Linked DNA regions of Homo sapiens. The gene in region 3 interacts genetically with the main gene of each other region. Each region holds a gene or a part of one and is shown on either strand. Other genes may lie near its edges.

Evidence for each region.
Region 1: changes in SMNDC1 (region 3) and EIF3C together harm fitness less than expected from each alone (positive genetic interaction), as found in Homo sapiens cells (one large-scale study listed by BioGRID).
Region 2: changes in SMNDC1 (region 3) and ANAPC13 together harm fitness more than expected from each alone (negative genetic interaction), as found in Homo sapiens cells (one large-scale study listed by BioGRID).

Annotation. Positions count from the first base shown.
Region 1 is NC_000016.10:28,724,841-28,728,491, reverse strand, and holds part of EIF3C (eukaryotic translation initiation factor 3 subunit C), read right to left. Parts: intron 3,574-3,651; coding exon 3,480-3,573; intron 1,888-3,479; coding exon 1,697-1,887; intron 1,472-1,696; coding exon 1,247-1,471; intron 1-1,246. UniProt on the Homo sapiens protein: Component of the eukaryotic translation initiation factor 3 (eIF-3) complex, which is required for several steps in the initiation of protein synthesis.
Region 2 is NC_000003.12:134,477,158-134,480,198, forward strand, and holds the end of ANAPC13 (anaphase-promoting complex subunit 13), read right to left. Parts: intron 1,559-3,041; coding exon 1,433-1,558; 3' UTR 549-1,432; downstream 1-548. UniProt on the Homo sapiens protein: Component of the anaphase promoting complex/cyclosome (APC/C), a cell cycle-regulated E3 ubiquitin ligase that controls progression through mitosis and the G1 phase of the cell cycle.
Region 3 is NC_000010.11:110,302,005-110,306,393, forward strand, and holds the start of SMNDC1 (survival of motor neuron-related-splicing factor 30), read right to left. Parts: upstream 2,917-4,389; 5' UTR 2,744-2,916; intron 1,584-2,743; coding exon 1,464-1,583; intron 1-1,463. UniProt on the Homo sapiens protein: Involved in spliceosome assembly.

The DNA.
Region 1 (3,651 bases), on a different chromosome or scaffold from region 3:
AAAAGATACACACACAACCCCTAAAAGATACACACACACCCCCTAAAAGAGACACACACACACCCCTAAAAGATCTTTGAGACCAGCCTGGGCAACATAGTGAGACCCTGTCTCTACAAAAAATAAAAAATTAGCCAGGCATGGTGGCACATGCCTGTAGTCCCAGCTATGGTGGCACATGCCTGTAGTCCCAGCTACTATGGAGGCTGAGGTGGGAGGATCACTTGAACCTGGGAATTTGAGGCTACTGCGGGCCATGATCATGCCACTACACTCAGTCTAGGTGACAGTGCAAGACCCTGCCTCAAAAAACAAAAACAAAAAAAAGTTTAAAAGACCAATACCACCGCCGGCATGATGGCTCACTCCTGTAATCTCAGCACTTTGGGAGGCTGAGGCAGGCAGATCACTTGAGGTCAGGAGTTTGAGACCAGCCTGGCCAACATGGTGAAACCCTATCTCTACTAAATTACAAAAATTAGTCGGAAGTGGTGGCGGGCACCTGTAATCCCAGCTACTCGGGAGGCTGAGGTAGAATCGCTTGATCCTGGGAGGTGGCAGTTGCAGTAAGCCAAGATTGCACCACTGCACTCCAGCCTTGGCGACAGAGCGAGACTCCCTCTCAAAAAAAGACCAACACCACCAAAAGTTGACAAGGAACTCCCAAACACTAACAGGAGTGTAAAATGGTATAACCACTTTTGAGTTTCTTACAAGAATGTTCACAGCAGCTTCATACATTAGAGCCAAAAACTGGAAATAAACTGGGTGTCCGCCAAGAGGAAAACAGACACAGTGATATGTTCATACCATAGAATAGAAACACAAATAGGAGGGCTGTTTAAAAACCAGCAGTACCCCCAGACAGGTTCACCAGGTGCTCTACACATAAACATTTCCTAGTTGCCTCAAATATACTTTTACATGATCTACACTTCCAGACACAGCTTTTTTTTTTTTTTGAACAGTCTTGCTCCATTACCCAGGCTGGAGTGCAGTGGCACAACCTCGGCTCACTGGAACCTCTGCCTCTTGGGCTCAAGCACTACCAAGCCTGGATAATTTTTTTTTTTGACACGAAATTATGTGTTTACATGCAGGAGGACTGCAGGATGCTGGCAACTGGGAAAGACCAAGTGTCTACTTAAATTTGCACCGGCCAGACAGGTGGCTGTTCTGGTTAAGCCAGTTTGCCAAGAGGCCAGGGGCCTGGCACTCCTTCACCTCCAAGGCCTCCCCATCCTACCTGCACTGGCGGGTCTGCATGCTGAATGTTGTCCTGCAAGTGGCTCATGAGCATGAGGTCGCGGGCCTGGTACCAGCGCGAGTGCAGAGCATGGTGGTAGATGTGGCAGAGGATGGCACATGTGCGGATCCGGTCTGTGCGGTCCTTGGCGTAGATGTACTTGCACAGTCTCTCCATCAACACAGCCGAGTCCTCGCCCTCATTTTCTGCCTGGTCTTGCTCAGACTGGGGAGGAAGGGAGGTTATTTGCAAAGGAGATCCAGCTTTAAAAGGCACAGGCTCTAGCAACTAAAGATGAGACTCTATCCAGTCTCATTCTAATACCTCAGTTTCCCTCCCTGCTCCACCTGCGGAAGTCTAGAGAGTAACAGATTTGCTGTCAAGTCCTGACAGAAGTGGAGGACAGGTGGACACACCCATTCCCCTCTGCCATGACTGCCACGTGCTCACCTTTGAGGAGCCCTCAGGCGGGGTCAGCTGTCGCTGATGGGCCTTGTAATCAAACTTGTAGTAGGTGTGCAGGATGCGCAGCAGGTAGATGCGGCAGACCTCCTCGGTAGTGCCCTTCTCCTCCAGGTAGCGCTGCACACGCTCGATGATGGCACACACCTGGGCCTCATCCTTCAAGTGCTCCACGTACTCTGGCAGGGAGAGCACCCACCCTTGTCTCAGCTGGGCAGCCAGGCTTTCCCATCTGTCCCCACTCATTCCAATCAACCCGTCCCTCTTCTGCACCCGTCAGAAAAGTCTAGTCAGTGTGCCCCAGAAAGGCCATCTCCCACTCCCAGGACCCAGAACCTTCCAGTCCCACAGCTTAGGAAAAAAATCCCAACTGCCAACCTCTGCCAATAAGGGTCTGCCAGGCCTGGCCCTTGCCTGGTCTCCCACGATTCTCCCTCTGGCTTCCTGTGCTGGAGTCCCACTGGCCTTTTTACTCCTGGAACATCAAGCTCGCTCTCTGCTCCTCCTGTCAGGCGCTGTCTTCAGCTGATTCTTCCCCTAACTCCTCCTCATTGGATCTCACCTCAGGTGGTCCCTACTTAAGGGTGCTTTCTCCAGCTGTTAGCTACAGCAGCCACCCCTCCAGCCACTTCTTACCACAGGGCCCTAGTTTAACTCTGAACTTTATATCATCTAGAATTATTATTATTATTTTTTGAGATGGAGTTTCACTCTTTCGCCCAGGCTGGAGTGCAGTGGTGTGATCTCAGCTCATTGCAACCTCTGGCCCGCTGGGCTCAAGGGATTCTCCTGCCTCAGCCTCCCACATAGCTGGGATTTACAGGCACCTGCCACCATGCCTGGCTAATTTTTGTATTTGAGTAGAGCCAGGGTTTTGCCACGTTGGCCAGGCTGGTCTCAAACTCCTGACCTCAGGTGATTCACACACCTCGGCCTCCCAAAGTGCTAGGATTACAGGCGTGAGCCACTGCACCTGGCCCAGAATTATCTTAACATCATACTATTTTTTTTTTTTTTTGAGATGGAGTCTTGCTCTGTCGCCCAGGCTGGAGTGCAGGGGTGTGATCTCGGCTCACTGCAAGTTCCGCCTCCTGGGTTCATGCCATTCTCCTGCCTCAGCCTCCCAAGTAGCTGGGACTATAGGCGCCCAGCACCACGCCTAATTTTTTTTGTGTGTGTGTGTGTATTTTTAGTAGAGATGGGGTTTCACCGTGTTAGCCAGGATGGTCTCAATCTCCTGACCTCGGGATCCGCCTGCTTCGGCCTCCCAAAGAGCTGGAATTACAGACGTGAGCCACCACGCCCGGCCATATCTTACTACTATTATTTTTCAATCTGCCTTTCTCCATCCAGCACAAAAGGTAAGCTTTTGGCTGCCTTGTTAATCACTACACCCTTGACTTGATGGGCACATTCACACTTTTACTGAGTAAACTATGCTGCACTTTCACACCCCAATGCCTCTCATCCAAGCTAAACAAGAGAAGTGAATAGATGCCTTACCCCAAAGGTTCTCAAAGTATAGCCCTGAGACCAGCAACCTGGGAGCAGGCTAGAGGTGCAGGTTCTCAAGCCCCACTCAGACCTATGGAATCAGAAACGATGGGACTGGGAGCCAGCATCTCATCAGGCCCTTCCGTGTGAACGCTAGGTAAGTTGAAAGGCTGGCTTTTCAAGCACTCTGACTTAGTATAATCCTCACAAAGCTCTAAACCTAGTAATATTCCCCACAATTTTCCTCTCAGCAAAGCCCACGCTTGCTCAGGCTCACCTTGGGAGTGAGGGTCAGTATTTTGCATTATTTTGGTAAATTCTTCATCCATTCGTTCCACCAGAGTTAGGATGCAGCCACGGACACGCAGTGGCTGAAAAGGAAGGCGAAGGAGGAGTCAACAAATTAGCCCAGATCTCAGTCTCAAACCTCAACCCTCGGGTCCCACTGA
Region 2 (3,041 bases), on a different chromosome or scaffold from region 3:
AGTTCTCGGATGAGTGTCATAGACACAAACCAACAGCTGTCTTACAGATATCATATTCTGGTTCAGCAGAAATCAAGAATAGCTTTCATATTTTACTGGTCTACTAATATTCCAGGGAAAGGCTAGGCAGGATTCACATGAACATTTGTCAAGTTCTTAGATGTTAGTGTCTCAGAGATTACATACCACAAGTAAGCTGTAAAATCCTCATTTAACAAGAATGTGAAAGAACTGTGGCGTTCTAGGTATTTTAATTTTTTGAAAAGCTTTTTCTCTTGTATAAGTTTTTTTAATATTGTAAGTCTCTTTTCTATTAGGTTGTCTTTCTTTGCTTACTGAAGGGACTGGTGCCTTGGGGTCTTTATTCTGAAGATAAAAGATTTCTAGGCAGAACTACTGATGCAAAGAGAAGAAATCAGCCTGGATGTATCTGGATTATAGGATAGCTGCTAAAATCATGTTTGTGATTGAAAACCTAAAATAAGCTAATTTGTTTTTTCATGTACCTCTTCCTCCTAAAAGCTAAGTAAACAAAAAGACCCAGCATAAAAAGGATGAGAAGAGATTTTAGTTATTCAGTGTTTTCAGAGTTTCAACAAGGGATACAGATACAAGCAGCTTCTTACAGAGTTTACAATCTGGGGAGAGAACATGAAAGACACTGTTTAACAGGCAAATAATTCCAGGAATAAATATACATGAATGTGTTTTTCAAAATACAGGTTCTTATACAAATGTATAACTAAATACTGATTCCATAGTGGGGTGGTTGTAACTGAAAGGGCTTTGAGAAAAGGCTTTGAATAAAACTAGTCATCCACCTAGCCAAAGATCCTTTCCAGCAGCACAAAAGGAATTTGTAAGGAGAACAGAGATTAACTGTCAGATATCTTTCTAATCTGTAAATTTATCCAAAGTTTGAAAATACCATGAAGAATCTTAGGAATGCCAGTAACCAGGGAATGGGATATTTGCATATCACAACATCTACAGGCTAAATACACTCCGAATGCTTCTCAATGTGGGGAAGTATGAGAAGTTAATAATTCTCCTAGTGTCTGGCTTCCTTTTTCTTTGCCTTTCCCTCTCATACGTTCAATCACCTGTGTTACAGGACACACATAAGTAGTTGGAAGGTGTTAAACTTTGACAGCAAAGCAAAATCAGAGGTAGAGGCAAATGTTTAACCAATCATGTTCAAATATAAGCTACTCAATGAAGAGTTTTAGGTTTAAAGAGCGAAATATTCACCATTACTGAGAAATCTCAGTTTCTCATTCAATTTCGCATTGCACTTTGCTACCACAAACTAAATGGGTGTACATTTTTGAGTGCTGATTTATTACTCAAAGGTTTGAATTTGGAGACTGAAACAAACCATGCTTTATCTGTGTACTTTGAGAAAATCCATCCACAAGAAAGGAGCCAAGCGTCAGTTTCCAATGGGGGGAACATTCTCATGGAGGTACTGTAAGGCTAAGTCTGTCCACTTCATTTCTTGTTCTTTGACAGATTCTGTGGTGCCACCATTGTCTTGTTCAGGTTCAGGAAGCTCATTCTGAAAAGGTACAATAGAAATTCAGAACAGTAATATATTCTGCATCTTCTTGGAACTCAAGAACACTTAGAATTAAAGCTTGTGAGTTCCTAGGAACAGGCAACATAATTGATATGTGTATTCTAAAAAAGCTAAAATCATACACGTGAGGAAACTATCAGAAGTATCATTCAAACATGGCCCGGGCCTTCTTCAGTAGGGAATGATGGGCATTTTGACTCTGACATTTGTGAAGGAGGCACTGTGGCAGAAAGGTTAAGGGCAGAGGCTTTTGGAAGCCAACTAGGATCCAAGACCACAACTCTCCCATTTGCTGGGTTACTTGGGCAAGGTATGCAAACCCTTGGGGCCTTTGTTTCTTCCTTGGCAAATGGGAGAACAAAAGAGCCATCACCTCACAGGACTACTGTAAGGATTAGGTGAGGTAATTCAGATCAAGTGCTGAGCACTCTGTGGGGTATCCAGTGCTCAAGGAATATTTGCTATTATTATTAGCGGCTAGGAACACTGAGATGAGTGAATCCTAAATCTTCTTTAGCGGGAGCGTGCTTTAAAAGAATACTAGTTTGCTGGCATATTCCTTAGACACAAGAAATGTATCCAAAAAATTATCTTGGACCCAACATGTCTTTTTTTTTTGAGATGGAGTTTTGCTTTTGTTGCCCAGGTTAGAGAGCAATGGCGTGATCTCGGCTCACCACAACCTCTGCCTCCCGGGTTCAAGCGATTCTCCCGCCTCAGCCTCCCGAGTAGCTGGGATTACAGGCATGCACCACCATGCCCGGCTAATTTTGTATTTTTTTATTTTTTTTTAGTAGAGATGGGGTTTCTCTATGTTGGTCAGGCTGGTCTCGAACTCCCAACCTCAGGTGATCCACCCGCCTCAGCCTCCCAAAGTGCTGGGATTACAGGCGCGAGCCACCGCGCCTGGCCCAACATGTCTATATTATAATAAAAATGGAGGTAGGGCAGGAAACACTGAAAATGTAATTAATAGATAAGACCTCCCTCTAGTGGTGGAGCAGAGCAACAAAAAACACAACAAATGACCAATTCACACCCTACCAGCAATTTTCTTAAAATGGTAAGTCATGGGCCACACTTACTGTAGGATCTGGGATCATTTACTTGTATTTTAAGTTTAAATGTATTACTACTGAAACTCTGCTTTGTACCAGAGTTCACAGATACCAATATATTTCTTTTCAATTATCTGTGTTTTGTTTTATGGTTAGCAAACTGTTATGCGATATCCAGACTTAAAATTTTCCACTGGATTCTAATTTGTAGTATGTGAATATGTTTTCCCCTCTAAAATTATGCTCAATATATATTAAATGATATTTACTTATCTATATTTGAATCACATACATCTTGTTCTACAAGACAGATTCAAACATACTTGAACAGATTGAGAAGAGCTATCATTTATTGTAACGCAATAATATATTATCTTAAACTTAAAAAGAAAGTTCAGTCCTAA
Region 3 (4,389 bases):
CCACTGCCCAAGAAGCAATATACAAAACATTGGCACCCAGTGTTTTCTTTTCCTAAAAAAGGACTGCTTAAGTTGGTAAAGGTAGTCAAGGCATCTCTCTTTGGGGCAAACAGAAAGCACTTTACAGAGTGTAAGAAAATAAGAGGTCGGTGTGCCTCTGTTGCCTCATCTTCAATGTATACTCACAACATATGAGCAAATCAAATGGACAGGTGGCAAACCACTGGGTTATTTCTCACTTAAGGGCCTGGGAGTGGGAGAAACTGCTCCCAAAACATCTTTTTTGTATTGACTGGCACCCTGAAGCCCACAGGCCTGGCTTCTACGTATCGAAGAGGGGTCTTGTTCATATTGAAATTAACCCAGATAGTTTGTGTGTGTTTAAAAATAACATACTACTGCAATTTTATTCTAAATGTAGAACTTGAAAGTATTCAACTCATCTTAATTACGCCCAGATAAGCAGTTCCAGAATCCCAAATCCGGACCCTATTTCCGTTAAGTTTGTTTGCAGTTCTGATATCCCTAAAATAGTAATAGTTTTAACGGGCAGTGGGATAATAAAGGGAGGGAATGAATTTTTAGACAGGATACAGATTTGAGTTTAGTACTCAGTCGGTAAAGCAATCTCTAATCAAAACACCCTTGAAACTTTTTAAAAATCAGGTTCAGAATTTAAAGGAAGCTCTTAAAAGTCATATATATTTGCAAATTATATATGGCATTTTTCTGAATCAGTCTGGTGTCCTGAAACACAAAAGGTATTTACTATGATGGCTCTATGTTTGTCTTGAAATCCCAGTGCAGGTTTTCAAAAAAAGGTTTCATTATCTACTAAACTCTACCATGACAAAGATCTCCTTTTCACCACATAGTTCAATTTCCACAAGTGTCAACAACTTTACTGTAAAACCTAGCCTTAAGTCTGAACATCTATGTAACAATTATACAAAGCACTTGTCTCTCTTTAGGCATTTTTGTGGTGTGTTTTCAATACAAAATGTAATCCACTAGCTTTGGGGAAAAAAAAAAGGCACGCATTTTCAAAGAATCTTGTGGTATTAAAAAGAATCTTAAGGTTCTATTTTTCTCCTTCAATCTTTGTTACTTTTTGAACTAAATTTCATTTGCCAGGTCTTAAAAACTAAAAGCGTTTTTCATTGTGAAGTTACATGTACCTCTCGTCTTGAAAATCTGACAGACTTGGAAATTTCTATCAACTTTAGTTTTTAAAAATTATGTAAGCACACAAGATTTATATAACAAAGAACAATATTTCACTCTGATGTACAGAAACCTGAGAACTGGGGAAGCAACCCTACTTCTACAAGCAATGGTACCTACAGAATTTACATATATACATAGGGTGGGGTGTAACCCCTCAAAAGGCGCTTTGGGTACTTAGGGATTCAAGCAATAATTTGAAAAACAGAGAAAAAGTACAATTGTCTACCCATACTTACTTGTAAATCTTTCTTCAATTTTAGCAAATCTTCATTTTCTCCATTTCCAGATAATGCAGCTTCAACTTGCTGGAGCTGAGCTTTGTAGCTTGCCAGCTGCTTTGCTAAATCCTCTGACATCTAGGGAAAATAAAAAGGGTTAGACCATGAAAACTAAACCAAAAATCAAGGCATAAAAAACTAACTCCCCTGTCTGCCTGAATTACCAGTTTTTGCCTCTAACTCCTTCTAACACTGCAGCTTAATTTACCACCATTACCTTTACTCTCAGTTTAGACTTCAGCTAAACCACAAACTTAAAGGCAACAGATTCTGAGGATTATAAACTTGAGATACATTCCATACTTTAAAAAAGCATACAGATACAAAGAAATTTCTAATTTTCTTTTAACTCCTATCCACAGGGTAGGTGCTGAATTCGGCTCAATAATCAGTGTTATCTTTTTAAAAAGCACTACTCTGTTGGAAAAGTCGAAACTTTCAAAAACAATCCAAATACTTATTTTTAAGCACTACAGTATGCTTCCAAAGCCAAACAAGTGCGTTTTTAAATTAACTACACAAACTACGATCTTTACTTGAACTATTCAATTAAGAGTGTATTTAAAAGTGCCTCTCCAAAACAAAAATCTTTCGCCCAGTCGCTTAAATATTTATCGGTGCATTATCTTCAGCAAAAAGAACAGCACAGGTACTCTCCCATTTAGGCATTCTAACGAATGTGCCTTTCGCCAAATCCAGCTCAGTCATTTTCCTGAAAATAAGATACCAATTAACCTTTTTTGATGGTTTATAAGCAAATGTACCACGTTTCCGAGGACCCTTCTCCTTCGTAAAATTCCCGTCCAACCAAAGGCTGGGAGCCTGCAAAGGCCCCCTAAGAGTTACAGCGACCCAGGCTGCTCTCCTCCCCGCCACGCAGCACCTCAAAGCCCGCCACAACTCGATCATTCGGACGTGGAAATCCACACGCCAGCTCCAAGACCACCGCCGGAGCCCCGCCGCGCTCCAACAGGCAGGCTCCACAGGGAGCCGCGCGGCGCCCAGCCCCACCCGACCCGGTCCCCTGCGGGCCGTGTTTGCCGCCGCCGCACGGAGGCCAGCGCCGGCCGGGCCGCCGAGGCTCAGCTCTGGCTGAGAGACGGCCGTGGCTCCGGGATCCAGGGCCAGCGCCTGGGCGTCTCCGGCGAGGCGGGCTCCTCAGCCTTGGGCCTCCGCTTCACCTCGGGAGGGACCCGGGCCCGGCCAGGCCTTACTCTCTCCCTCAGGGGGGTTGTTACCTTGTGTGGGGCTGGGGGCGGGGCGGCGGGAAGGGGTCGGGGCAAATGAGCCCAGTGGTAGTGGCGGTGGCAGCAGCAGCAGTAGCAGTAGCAGGAAAATCACCGCGACGACAGCAAGGCGACCCGGTCTGAAAAGGAAGAACTCGGTCGGCGGCGAGGGGGAAGGGAGGAACGCCGGGCACTGGAAGGAGGAAAAGACAGAGACGGTGAAGTCTCGCGAGAAATACAAACTCTCGCGCGAGGTCGCTCGACTCACGTGACTCCGCGCGCCCTCTAGCCAGTCCCTGGCTGTCAGGGACACGAAGTAGGCGGGGCCTAGGAAGGAAATGGCGTAGCTGGGCTTCGCCAGGCGCGGAATGCAGGTTATCTTCCTGGAGTTCCGGCTTGGAATTTATTGGAAATGCAAATTCTCAAGCCCCACCCCAGACCTCCTGAATCCAGAGACTCTTGTTTTAATAAGCTCACCAGATGATACCAATGTCCGCTGACGTTTGAGAACCACTGCTTTTCCGGGGCGGTGGTGGTGGGTGGCGGGGGGTGTTGGTGGGGGCTCTCTTTACGTTGCCCTGGCTGGTCTCCAGCTCCTGGGCTCAAGCTATCCTCCTGCATCGGCATCCCAAAATGCTAGGATTACAGGCGTGAGCCACCGCGCCCAGCCTGAGAACCACTACTTTATATGATACAAGCCTTAGTAGTAACAGAAAGCTAATTAAATCGTGACAGAAATAACCTATTGGAGAGAAGATTGATTTCTTTAAAATCTGTTTTGTTAAAACCTACTTGGTTTTAATTTAGTTGGGTTAATCTCGCCTGATAGGGAACAACGTCCAAGTTAGTCTAGAATGGTAAAGAGTGGTAGGAATACTCACATTTGTGTTCAAAAAGAAATGCCCCTTGTGTATGTTTGTAATAATATATACGCTTTCTGGACGGATACACAAAACTGTTCAGAGGTTTGGAGTGGAAGCCAAATGTTTTATTGATTACCCTCTTTGCTGTTTACCCTTTTTCCTTTTCTTTTTTTTTTAAACCATATATATATAATTTATTTCAATTAAAAAAGCAATAAAGGCCTGAGACACAAAGTTTTATATAGATGACAGGAAGCAACCTTTCCTGGGAGGTTGGGAGTTTGTTGCTGGATCCATAAAAAGGCCCACTTCTCGCGGATCACCTGAGGTCAGGAGTTCGAGACCAGCTCGACCACGTGGAGAAACCCCGTCTCTACTAAAAATACAAAAAAAAAAAACCAACAACAACAACAACAACAAAAAGCCGAGCATGTTGGTGCATTCCTGTAATCCCAGCTGCTCGGGTGGCTGAGGCAGGAGAATCGCTTGAACCTGGAGGCGGCGGTTGCGGTGAGCCGAGATCGTGCCATTGCACTCCAGCCTGGGCAGCAAGAGTGAAACTCCGTCTCAAAAAAAAAAAAAAAGGCCCACTTCTCAGATGGGCTCTTTTGAACTGTGCCAACATCTTTAGTTCCTAGTTTTCTTTTCAAGGAGCCTTCCCTTTTGTTCTCTACACACACACACATAACCCTTGCAGTGAGTCAGATAACCTGTATAGATGGAAACTAGGTCGGGTTTGTGAGTGTGAAAGATTGAAATTGCAGCAGAGGGCAGCAGTGTGTAGCTAGAATTAAG